Linked DNA regions of Homo sapiens. The protein of the gene in region 1 purifies or fractionates together with the protein of each later gene. This does not show direct contact. Each region holds a gene or a part of one and is shown on either strand. Other genes may lie near its edges.

The links.
Region 2: the proteins of IRGC (region 1) and AP3S1 purify together in Homo sapiens (affinity purification with mass spectrometry; one large-scale study listed by BioGRID and IntAct). This does not show direct contact.
Region 3: the proteins of IRGC (region 1) and RPS6KA3 purify together in Homo sapiens (affinity purification with mass spectrometry; one large-scale study listed by BioGRID and IntAct). This does not show direct contact.

What each region holds. Positions count from the first base shown.
Region 1 is NC_000019.10:43,714,630-43,718,910, reverse strand, and holds the start of IRGC (interferon-inducible GTPase 5), read right to left. Parts: upstream 2,836-4,281; 5' UTR 2,769-2,835; intron 2,035-2,768; exon of another isoform or gene 1,962-2,034; intron 532-1,961; exon of another isoform or gene 464-531; coding exon of another isoform or gene 353-463; coding exon 1-352. UniProt on the Homo sapiens protein: Required for sperm motility and therefore male fertility, via positive regulation of spermatozoa fibrous sheath formation.
Region 2 is NC_000005.10:115,844,791-115,848,515, forward strand, and holds part of AP3S1 (AP-3 complex subunit sigma-1), read left to right. Parts: intron 1-3,725. UniProt on the Homo sapiens protein: Part of the AP-3 complex, an adaptor-related complex which is not clathrin-associated. The complex is associated with the Golgi region as well as more peripheral structures.
Region 3 is NC_000023.11:20,172,910-20,176,409, forward strand, and holds part of RPS6KA3 (ribosomal protein S6 kinase alpha-3), read right to left. Parts: intron 3,444-3,500; coding exon 3,341-3,443; intron 2,380-3,340; coding exon 2,255-2,379; intron 1-2,254. UniProt on the Homo sapiens protein: Serine/threonine-protein kinase that acts downstream of ERK (MAPK1/ERK2 and MAPK3/ERK1) signaling and mediates mitogenic and stress-induced activation of the transcription factors CREB1, ETV1/ER81 and NR4A1/NUR77, regulates translation through RPS6 and EIF4B phosphorylation, and mediates cellular proliferation, survival, and differentiation by modulating mTOR signaling and repressing pro-apoptotic function of BAD and DAPK1.

The DNA.
Region 1 (4,281 bases):
GAGAGCCGGCTCCTGGCAGGTCCCAGAGGGTCACGTCAGGGAACTGTGGGTGTGGATAGGGCGACGGTTGCATCGTGGTCTCCATGACGCCCGTGAGAGCCGCGCCAGGGTCCTCGGCCTCCAGGCCACGCAGGGCATTGATGAGGGAGGACTTGCCCGCGCCCGACTCGCCCGTGACGCCCACCTCCAGGCGGATGCTTTCCGTGGAGGCCAGCAGCTCCTGGAGGTGAGAGGCGGCCTGGGGGAGGTCACCCGACTCAAAGGCTGTGCGCAGGGCCTCCAGCCTTTCCTTGGCCATAAGGATGGTGTTTTCCTCCTCCCCAGGCACCACGGGCAACTTTGAAGTAGCCATGGTGGCCAGTGGTTCAGAGGGTGGCGGGGGACAGGGGAGAGTCACAGGATGCGTGATCCTCAGCGCCTGCAGAGGAGAAGGGAGCCATTCACACCTCCTGGGCCTTGGCATGGGGCAGGGAGAGACAGATACCACGGATGTGAAGGGAGTCGCCCTGGAAGCCCACAGCTCTCTTTTTCCTTCAAGAATTGGGGACACATTTTTGGCACAAGTTAGAGGGCTTTGGGGTCTGGCAGGCCCAGGTTCACATCCCTTTTCTGCCACTAACTTGCTGTGTGACCAGGGGCAAAATGAAGCACCTCTCTGGGTAATGGGCATGACCACCAAGCAGCCTCTTGGAGCACTATTGGAGTCTCCAGGGTAACCTAGGCACAGGTCAGTTTTCTGGGTGTATGTGTGCCCTGGAGGGTTCTGTGCTTAGAATGGCCCAGTGCTTGGTTTAATGCTCTGCTGACACTAGCTGAAATTGTTTGTTTGTTTGTTTGTTTGTTTGAGACAGGGTCTCTCTGTCATCGAGGCTGGAGCACAGTGCTACGATCATGGCTCATTGCAGCCTTGATCTCCTTGGCTCTAGCAATCCTCCCACCTCAGCCTCCTGAACAGCTGGGACCACAGGCGCATGCCACCATGCCCAGCTACTTTTTAAATTTTTTGTAGAGATGGGAGTCTCACTATGTTGTCCCAGCTGGTCTTGAACTTCCGAGATCAAGGTCCTCCTGCCTCAGCTTCCCAGAGCGCTGGGATTAAGGGCATGAGCCACTATGCCTGGCCTGAAATTCTTTATAATATTTGAACCAGGGGCCCCATATTTTCATTTCGTACTGGGCCTTGCAAATTATATAGCCAGGGCAAATTACATAGCCAGGGCTGCATAGGAAAGGGTGGTACAGGCCCATTCAGAGGAAACAGCTGCACTCCTGCGGTGGCTGGGATTGGAGGGTAGGGTGGAGGGGACCCAGACCCGGAGCCAGACTGCCTGGGATCAAATCCTGGCTCCACCACATACTTACTGAGTGATGTGAGGCAAGTTACTTAACTCTCTCCTCACTCTCCTCATCTGAACACTGAGAATGATACCTACAATCCTGGCAAACCACCTCCTAGGATCTCTGTGACTTGAATGAGTTATGACATAAAGCAGCCCATAAAACGGCGCCTGGCTCAGGGCAGGTGCCTCGTGTCATTGGCATCACCATCATCGTCATTATTCTTATCATTAGTAATATTCTTAGCTGTGTGACTTTGAGCAAGTCCTCGCCCTGTCTGAGCCTCAGCTGCCCCGTGGGGGATACTCCTCCCCACCTCGCAGGGCTGCTGTGATGCCCACAAACCCCGTTCAGCTAGCCCTAGGCTGACTTTGGGTTCAGACGCCCTTGGGTTCGGGAAGCCAGACATGGGGACCACCTGGACACCAGGAGTCATTTCCATGAAACCCCACCCCTGCCATGGCAGCCCTTGCCTCCCGGGGTTCAGTTCCCCTCCCACCGCCCAGAGCTCCTGTCGTGATGGTCCCCCCTCAGATCCCTCCTCCTCACCAGGAGCTTCCCTGGTCCTCCCTCTTCCCACTCACCCTCCTCTGGCCCATCATCTCTAAAATACATTTACTCACTAAGGGTCTTCAGGGTGCCCTGGGAGAGCTGCTCATGTCTGGGATCACTGTCCCCATTTGACAGGGAGAAGGACTGAGGCTCAGACAAGACAAATGAGGTCTCCTCATCCAGAGGCATAGCCAGGACCCCAACCCAGGTCCCCAGGCTCCTTCACCCACCTAGAGAGCTACTCTCCCTTCAGCTGCATGTCCCTGCCTCCTGCATTGTCTCCTTGCCCCCTGCACCCCGTCTCTTCACCTCCTACCACTCACCCCATCCTCTGCTACCCCACTCCACCCCCCACAGAAATATGTCCTTAAGACATTGTTCCCGGCTGGGCATGGTGGCTCACGCCTGTAATCCTAGCACTTTGGGAGGCCGAGGTGGGTGGATCACTTGAGGTCAGGAGTTCGAGACCAGCCTGGCCAACATGGTGAAACTCCATCTCCACTAAAAATACAAAAATTAGCCAGGTGTTGTGGCGCATGCCTGTAGTCCCAGCTCTTGAACCCAGGAGGCGGAGGTTGCAGTGAGCCAAGATTGCACCACTGCACTCCAGCCTGGGCGACAGAGCGAGACTCCGTCTCAGAAAAAAAAAAAGGAAAAAAAAAAGACATTGTTGCCTCCAGATCTGAGCCTCCTATCCTGGGTGTGCCCTCTCCCTAGTATGGTCTGCGGTGGGAAGAGTAGGAACCTGGAACAGGTCCTGGCAGCAAGGGGCAGACAAGTCAGTGGTTGGAATTTGGGCTGAGGGGGTCCGGATTAGACCATAAGCTCCTGCTCCGCCCACGCACAGGGGCCCAGCGAGAGAGCCCTGGGGGACTCACCTGCCCTGCAGGCTCTCCCTCTCCCCTCACACTCTCCCCACTGATAGGATCTCCTTCCCTCTTAGCCAAGGTCAGACACCGTTGCTAGGACCCATTATCATAGCAAGCAGCAGCTTATTGGTCAGCCAGACCTGGTGCAATAATGCGACAGTGATGTCAGGGGGTGGGGCCCGGAGGTGGAGCAGGGACCCCAAGCCCCAGCTGCTCATGGGGTCACCACCCACTCACACTGGGCCCTCCAGTTCCCCTGAAGACTCCAGAGAGATCTTTCTAACACCAAGACCTGTTCAAAATCCTCCATGGTCTCCATCACCCCCCAAGGACAAAGTCTCAGATTCACAGATTGGTTTCCAAGGGCTTGGCCCTGCTACCACTCCACCCTCCACCCAGGGGACTGTCAGTTCCCCAGAGAAGTGTGAAAGTTGATGATACAAATTCGGTCATTGCTGGTGGGCACAGTGGCTCACGCCTGTAATGCCAGCACTTTGGGAGGCCGAGGCGAGTGCATCACTTGAGGCCAGGAGTTTGAGATCAGCCTGGGCAATGTGGTGAAACTCCATCTCTACTAAAAATACAAAAATTAGCCAGATGTGGTGCATGCATGTAGTCCCAGCTACTCGGGAGGCTGATCTGCTATCTTGTAAGCCCAATAATTTAGTCATTGATTTCTTTTTTTTCTTTTTTTGAAACAGTGTCTTGCTCTGTCACCCAGGCTGGAGTGCAGTGACACAATCTTGGCTCACTGCAACCTCCGCCTCCTGGGTTCAAGTGATTCTCCTGCTTCAGCCTCCTGAGTAGCTGGGACTACTAGCATGCACCACCAGGCTTGGCTAATTTTTTTTTTTTTTTTTTTTTTTTAGTAGAGGTGGGGTTTCACCATGTTGCCTAGGCTGGTCTTGAACTCCTGACCTCAGGTTATCCGCCTGCCTCGCCTCCCAAACCTCCTGACCTCAGGTTATGCCGCCTCCCAAAGCGCTAAGATTACAGGTGTAGCCACTACACCCGGCCCCTTCTTGTCCTTTATAAGTGTCTCTGTCCTGTCTCCCCTCCGGGCTTCCTCTCTGCCCAGGCCAGGCTCCACAGGGCCTTCTCCATTCTCCTCTTGTAGGGAATTTACAATAACGCTACTCAGAGGATTTTCCTGACCATCTGCAGGCCAGTTCTGGAAAGGAGCCTCTGAGAACAACTAAGGAGAGAGAGGCCCAGAAGGGGAATAGACTAGCTCAGAGCCACCCTGAGAGCTGGGGAAGAGTGGGCTGTTGGCCGCATAGTACAGAGTTCTTAAGCCACAGGTGAAAGGGAGGTGCAGGGCAAAAGACACACGACTCACTCATGCTCTCACTGACTGACACAAACACACAGAGCTGAAGAGAGTGAACAACATGGTTCTCAGACTTCCCCGGACACCGAGCACACAGACCAGCAGACAGCAAGGACTCCTTCCCAAAATGCATGGACACGCACCCCTGGCCCAAGAGAGAAGGGAAAGACACAGAAAGAGCCTCAAATACAG
Region 2 (3,725 bases), on another chromosome or scaffold:
GATTTTTTTCATCTTTGTTATGACACAGTATTCTCGTTCACAGCCTATAATTCCTCGTGGCAGCCATCCTATAGAATACTTGAAGGAACGTATCAGATTTTAGGTATATTTTTGTCATTCTAAGCAGTCAACACTGAGTCTTGAACATAGAAAACTCTCTAACTCTTTGCTAAATGCATTTATTTAGAATCTCCTAGCTTGGGATAGAGTTGGGATTAGTTAACTTGCTGAGTTTCCTTCTATCTCTTAAAATGTAGTCCTTCACTAACTAGAGGTTTTAAGAATCTCTGCCTTTAGCATAAAAGTAATGATGGCATATGTGTTACTCAGCTGTTTCTGTTTTAAGGGGTCTCTAAGAAGTATATGTCCAATATGAATAAAAATATTGAGTTTAATTTATTAAACAATATCTAGAGGTGTGACTGAGCTAACAATTCCATATACTGGCAGGATGCTGAGGTTTGAGTCCAACAGTAATCGTTTAACACTGAGCAGTTTAAAAAATGTTTAACCATTTGCCAACAAGTTTATCCTACTGCACTTCATTTTCATTCCTCATTTATCTCCCTCAAATATAACAACTTACATATTCATCTCTGCCCTTTAACAGTGCACATTTCCATTTCATGCTGTAATAGATTGTTAGATTCGATTGTGGCTCCAAGCTGTTATATGTGAGAAATAGGAAGTTGCGCACCTGTTTTGCTAAACAGAAGTTTTGGTTCATTCTGCTAGAGTCAGACATTACGAATTCAAGTGTGGGCTGGGTGCCATGGCTCATGCCTGTAATCTCAGCACTTTGGGAGGCCAAGGCAGGCGGATCACCTGAGGTCAAGAGTTCAAGACCAGTGTGGCCAACATGGTGAAACCCCATCTCTACTAAAAATACAAAAATTAGCCAGGCATGGTAGCGCACGCCTATAAGTGCAGCTACTCGCTCGAGGCTGAGATAGGAGAATTGCTTGAACCTGGGGAGGTGGAGAATGCAGTGAGCTGAGATCGTGCCACTGCATTCCAGCCTGGGTGACAGAGTGAGACTCCATCTCAAAAAAAAAAAAAAAAAAAAAAAAAAAAAAAAAAAAAATTCAAGTCTGGACTCAAAATGCATCCCTTTTCGTTTTTGCCTTCTATATCCTTGGTCTATGACTGCACAAATTCAAATGTTTTGCTTGGTTTGTCTTTTTAAGTTGATACTTAGCTTCAGCGACTTGACAACAGTAACCTTTAGTCTTTTAATACTTACCTGACAGTATTTGTGCATTACTGTAAATAACTAATGAGACTTATATTTTATAAACTAAATATATTTTTACATAGCTATCAAACAAAAAAATCCCTTCGGTTGTGATTCCATAGTGTATCCTCTGGTGAATTACTTTTAAAAAATTTTTCTTTTTTTATAGAGAAAAGGTCTCACTATGTTGCTCAGGCTGGTCTTAACCTCCTGGCCTCAAACACTCCTCCAGCTTTGGCTTCCCAAAGTGCTGGGATGACAGATCTGAGCCACCATGCCTGGCCTGTGAATTACTTTTATAAAGTGGAAATGTCTTTCTTTTGTGTGAATTATCTTAGTTGTTTCTTCAGATATAAAATACTGTGTGTATGTATGCATGTGTGTGTACACACCACACACATATTAAGTGCAAGCAGGAAAAATTTCAAATTAACCTATATGAGTTGCCTCAATTTTTTTAATAAACTGTATTTAATTAAACTGTTAACCAAATGCAAGCCTTAGGAGGAACTCTAAGATTCTTCTTTCTCGTTTTTTTTTTTTTTTTTAAATCTTAACATAAAAATACAAAGTGTTGAAAGTATAGATAACTTCTTTTTTCTTTTAAAAATATCCCTTAAAAAGATCCATCCATGTTCACTCATGTCTTTTTTTAGTGACTATTAAGACGTTGTGGCAGATGGGATAATTAAACTTATGTCTGTGATCAAGATAGAATTATCAACACTCCTGAGTATGAGGGTGTTAACACATACTAACACACGGCATTTCAGCTTTTTGTTAAGAAGAAAATTCCATACGATTTGGTTTCCTTCCATATTAGTTATAATGCGTTTGTCTGCATAAATTGGGTTTTATGTAGCCTGACTCAAGTGCTTGGAAAGAACTATGTTAGGTACATTATAGGAAGTGCAGAGTAGTAGACCGATTCCAAAAGTATTTGATTCAGCAAATCAATGACTTTATTGTAGATCCAATTTCTTTCTCTTTCTCTGCTTTACTCATCACAAAATTACTATTATCCAAAGGCTGTTTTTCTCCTTTGGTAATCAGTTCAATTCAGAAAGAGACAACCATCTGTTTCTGCAGTCCTGGACTGTGTCTTTCCCTTCATTCTGGTTAGACCCACCCAAGACCAATATTCTTACCCTAATCAACATCCAACTTTGGATTGGAGCTGAAGATGAGAGTGAAAACGGGAATAAAATGGATATTCTGTTGGAAAGATGAAAGAAAGGAGTGGATGGTGGGTAGGCAAACAAGGGTCTGCTATTTCTTCTTCTAAACTTTTAAAAAAATATTTATTTTTATGGCCGGGTACAGTGGCTCATGCCTGTAATCCCAGCACGTTGGGAGGCCTAGATGGGAGGATTGTTTGAGCCCAGGAGTTCAAGACAAGCCTGGGCAACGTGGCAAAACCCTGTCTCTATGCCAAAAATACAAAAATTAGTGAGTCATGTTAGCACACACCTATAGTCTTAGCTGCTTAGGTGGCTGAGGTGAGAGGATCACTGAGCTCCGGAGATCAAGGCTGCAATGAGCTGAGATTGCGCCATTGCGCTCCAGCCTGGGTGACAGAGGAGACCCTGTCTCAACAAATTTAAAAAAATATATGTTTTTATTGAGGTATAGATGACAAAAAAAAATTACATATATTTACCGTGTACATGTTATTTTTGTATATGTATATATTGTGAAATGGGTAAATCAAGCTAACTAACATGTCTATCACCACTATTCCCTCTTTATTAGCTTTTAATATATATTAGTTTTCTGAAATTTTAGATTGCTTCTGAGGTTGTTAATATCAGGAATAGTTCCTTGTAATATGCAATACTGAACCTGTGTCACAATAGATCTTAATTTCAGGTTTTCCTTATATCAAAGTATCCTCGAAAAACCCAAATGCTTATACGTTCACAGTTTTTATGTGGAGTATGCTGGAAAACTTGCTTTTTAAAAATTAAGACTAAACCTTTTGAATATTTAATTGTAAAGGAGGAAATAAAGTCTTCAAAGTTAAAATGATTTTTGGTTATGAGGTAAGTGTTATAAATAGGACAATGTTATAGGTCATTTCATGGCTTTTCTAAAAGAAGGCCTTACGTGACGTACCTATATTATATTCTTTAGCAAAGTTGTTTTCAATTTTAAGTAAGTTTCTTTTTTTGTGACTGTGGAAAATTAAATATTAAGGCCACTAAGGTCATTCTTGATTTTACCACACACAGATAATTATTAACACTTAGTGTATTTCCCCCCGGTCTTTATTTTTCTTTTCAGAATGTCCCAGTGAATAGGATATACCTTTTAGACATTAATAACACAAATAAATGCTTTGAAGCTGATGATGGATTTATTAAACATTGTGGCTTTAAGATAACTGAATATGTTAATGTTCAGCCACTCTCTTGTTAAAATTTAAAAAAGACAGTATATGGTAATAGCACATTAATAATTTGCATGTCCTAAGAAATGTGTATATATCTTT
Region 3 (3,500 bases), on another chromosome or scaffold:
CCTTTAGTGCATTTTATAATAGGGAAGTATGTTACTCAGCATGCATTGTTGATGCCCTACATATAAATGAATAAGAATAAAAATACATCTTTATAGTACTTATTATTCTACAAACAAGTGATTTTGAAAGTGTTTACAATGAAGTGTACAGCAAGAAATATGACTTAAAAAAGCTTATGTTACAAACAAAAATTGAATTTGCACAACAGAAAAAGCAGAGCTACTTGATATGGGGCCTACATCTTTGTCTGTGATTCAGCCTTATTCCAGTCCCCAGTCGGCTATAGGTTTTCAAGTACCTTTGCAAATGAGAAGTTTGAAACCTATGGTATAGAAGGAAAGGATTTAGGAGGATTCAGAATTAGAATATCTGAATTCTTGTCTCAGGTACACCACTTACAGGCTATGTAACTTTGAGCCTGTATTTTCTCAGAGGGTAATGGTGAAGATTAAATAAAAATAATGTATTTGCAAGCAATACCTGTTATCGCCATTTTGGACTTTCAGTAGCCACTCCCTCCTTTCTTCACCCTGAAGTCATAGCCTTACACAACTTATGCTAAAGAAGCTCGTCATGGGTTAGGGACTAATAACACACAGTAGATGATGAACAGCAACTTACTGATTCCATAAACAGGCTGAGGAAAGTTGTGCTGCCCTTGGCTATACTGATATGAGACATCCATGCCTATGAGCTTTGTATATGTTAAAACTTGAATTTTGTAGGATATACAAGTTTGTGGTTTCTATGTTAGGTACAGAATTTGTAATTTAAAAACTTGCCATACATTCATGTGCTTGCATAGTAAATGGCACAGACTATTTCAACATGAGCTCTGCTTAAAAACCAGTGTTTTAATTGTTTTTCTACAAAATGGAAAACAGGATAACTGACTCATGAAAAAACTTTAGAGCAAAAGCAACTTAATCATCAAGCAAATCCAAGTACAAATGATATCCTAAAAAGAATCCAATGCTTCAAAAGATATATCGAGTTCCCTTTGATTAGAAAGATGACTTAAGATTTGAGTTCATTTTTATTTCTTGTATCTTTTCTAAGGCAAAGGTTGACAAACTATGGCCAGTGAGCCAAATCTGATTCATTGCCTGTGTGTGTAAATAAAGTTTTATTGGTGCACAGCCATGCCCACTTGTTTATGTATTGTCTGTGGTTGTTTTGTGCTACATAGCAGAGTTGAGTAGTTGTGACACAGCCCATATAGCCCACAAAGCCTCAAGTATTATCTGACCCTTCACAGAGAAAGTCTGCCGACTCCTGTTCTAAGGCATCAAAGAACCAGAAGACCTCAATTCATCATAGCTGACCTGAAGGAGGCAGAGGGTGAAACAAACTCGGCATGAAAAACATTTTGAGGCACAGGAGAGGATATAGACAACATCGTCATGTTTATCTCAACTCTTTTAAAATTCTACTTTCTTTTTTTTTTTTTTTTTTCTGAGACAGAGTCTAGCTCTGTCGCCCAGGCTGGAGTACAGTGGCGGATCTCGGCTCACTGCAAACTCTGCCTCCCGGGTTCAAGTGATTCTCTTGCCTCGGCCTCCTAAGTAGCTGGGATTACAGGCATGCGCCACCACGCCCAGCTAATTTTTGTATTTTTAGTAGAGACGGGGTTTCACTGTGTTGGACAGGCTGGTCTCGAACTCCTGACCTTGTGATCTGCCCGCCTCGGCCTCCCAAAGTGCTGGGATTACAAGCATGAGCCACCGCACCTGGCCTAAAACTCTACTTTCAAGTCACATAGGTATCTAGGATTTTGGTTCTTGCAACCTTTTCGATGACATATGAAAAAAATTCCTAAGAGTAAAGTTAATGATATAAAATGTATTTTATTTTATTTTTTGAGACAGAGTTTCAACTCTGTCACCCAGGCTGGAGTGCAGTGGTGCGATCTCCGCTCACTGCAACCTCTGCCTCAGAATCAAGTGATTCTTGTGCCTCAGCCTCCTGAGTACCTGGAATTACAGGCACGTGCCACTATGCCCAACTCATTTTTGTATTTTTAGTAGAGATAGGGGTTTCACCATGTTGGCCAGGCTGGTCTTGAACTTCTGACCTCAAGTGATCCAACTGCCTTGGCCTCCCAAAGTGCTGGGATTACGGGTGTGAGCCACTATGCCCAGTCTAAAATGTATTTTAAATTGCTCACTTGAAGTCAGTAGAAAAAGATCTATTCACAGAATGAACTATATCTTACAACATTCCAAATCTAAAATTATTTAGACATCCACTCACCTGAACAATTGAATGTACACCAACTGTCTGCATAGCTTGGCTTTCATCATCTGAGGTAATAGCAACAAAACTAAACCCCCGAAAAAGCTGATGTGCATTAGCACTAGGTGGAATGCCAGGTGAATCTGAAAAGAGTAAGAAGTGACAAAGAAGATTCATTTGAAAGGAAATTAAGGGAAAAACTGTTGACACTATGACCTTTTTCACTTATTCTGGAATTCTATTTCTCAGGTACACAGTATATACCTCTTGCTTTCCAGGATACCTGTGAGGCACTGTATCAGATCTGTTCTGATTGTGTATTGCCATTACAACACCAACATCCTAGTCCCTCGGAGCCTAGAAAATAGCTAATTCATTTGAAGACTATAATACATCGATGAATTATAGGGTTAATGGTATTCAAAATTAATGCTGTCCCATGGAATTTCCTGAAATGATGGAAATTTTCTTTAACTTTACAGTCTGATAGCCACTAGCTACATGCAGCTTTTCGACATTTGAAACGTGCCTAGCGTGACTGAGAAACTACACTTTAAATTTTAATTAATTTAAATTTAATTAGCCACATGTGGCTACTGGCTACCATATTAGAAACTGCAGCCCTCAATAATAACCTAGTTGGGGTGGAACAGGGGAGATACAAGGTTGATCTACAGCAAATTTAGGAGATGTGAAGATAGCTTAGAGAGTTATCCAGGAAAAGATTTTCTTTTTTTCTTTTTGAGACAGAGTGTCGCTCTGTCACCCAGGCTGGAGTGCAGTGGTGCAATTTTGATGCACTGCAACCTCCACCTCCCAGGTTCAAGCGATTCTCGTGCCTCAGCCACCCAAGTAGCTGGGATTACAGGCACATGCCACCAAACCTGGCTAATTTTGGTATTTTTAGTAGAGACAGCGTTTCACTATGTTGGCCAAGCTGGTCTCCAACTCCTGGCCTCAAGCGATCTGCTCGCCTCAGCCTCCCAAAGTGCTGGGATTACAAGTGTGAGCCACCGCGCCCAGAGTCTGGAAAAGATTTTCTGATGAAACAAGAAAAAAACATATTTGTTGTCTTATATTTGGATTTTCACATTTTCTCCTTACCTTTGGGAGTTTTTGCAGTAAACTCAGGATCAAAATAGAATGTATCTTCAGGCCTGCCCGTTGCAGGTTTAAATGGCGGATGAATTTCTCTTCTATACAGTTTCTGGAGGGGAAAAAAAAAAGAGACTTAGACATATTTTAATTATAAAGAAATATTTCA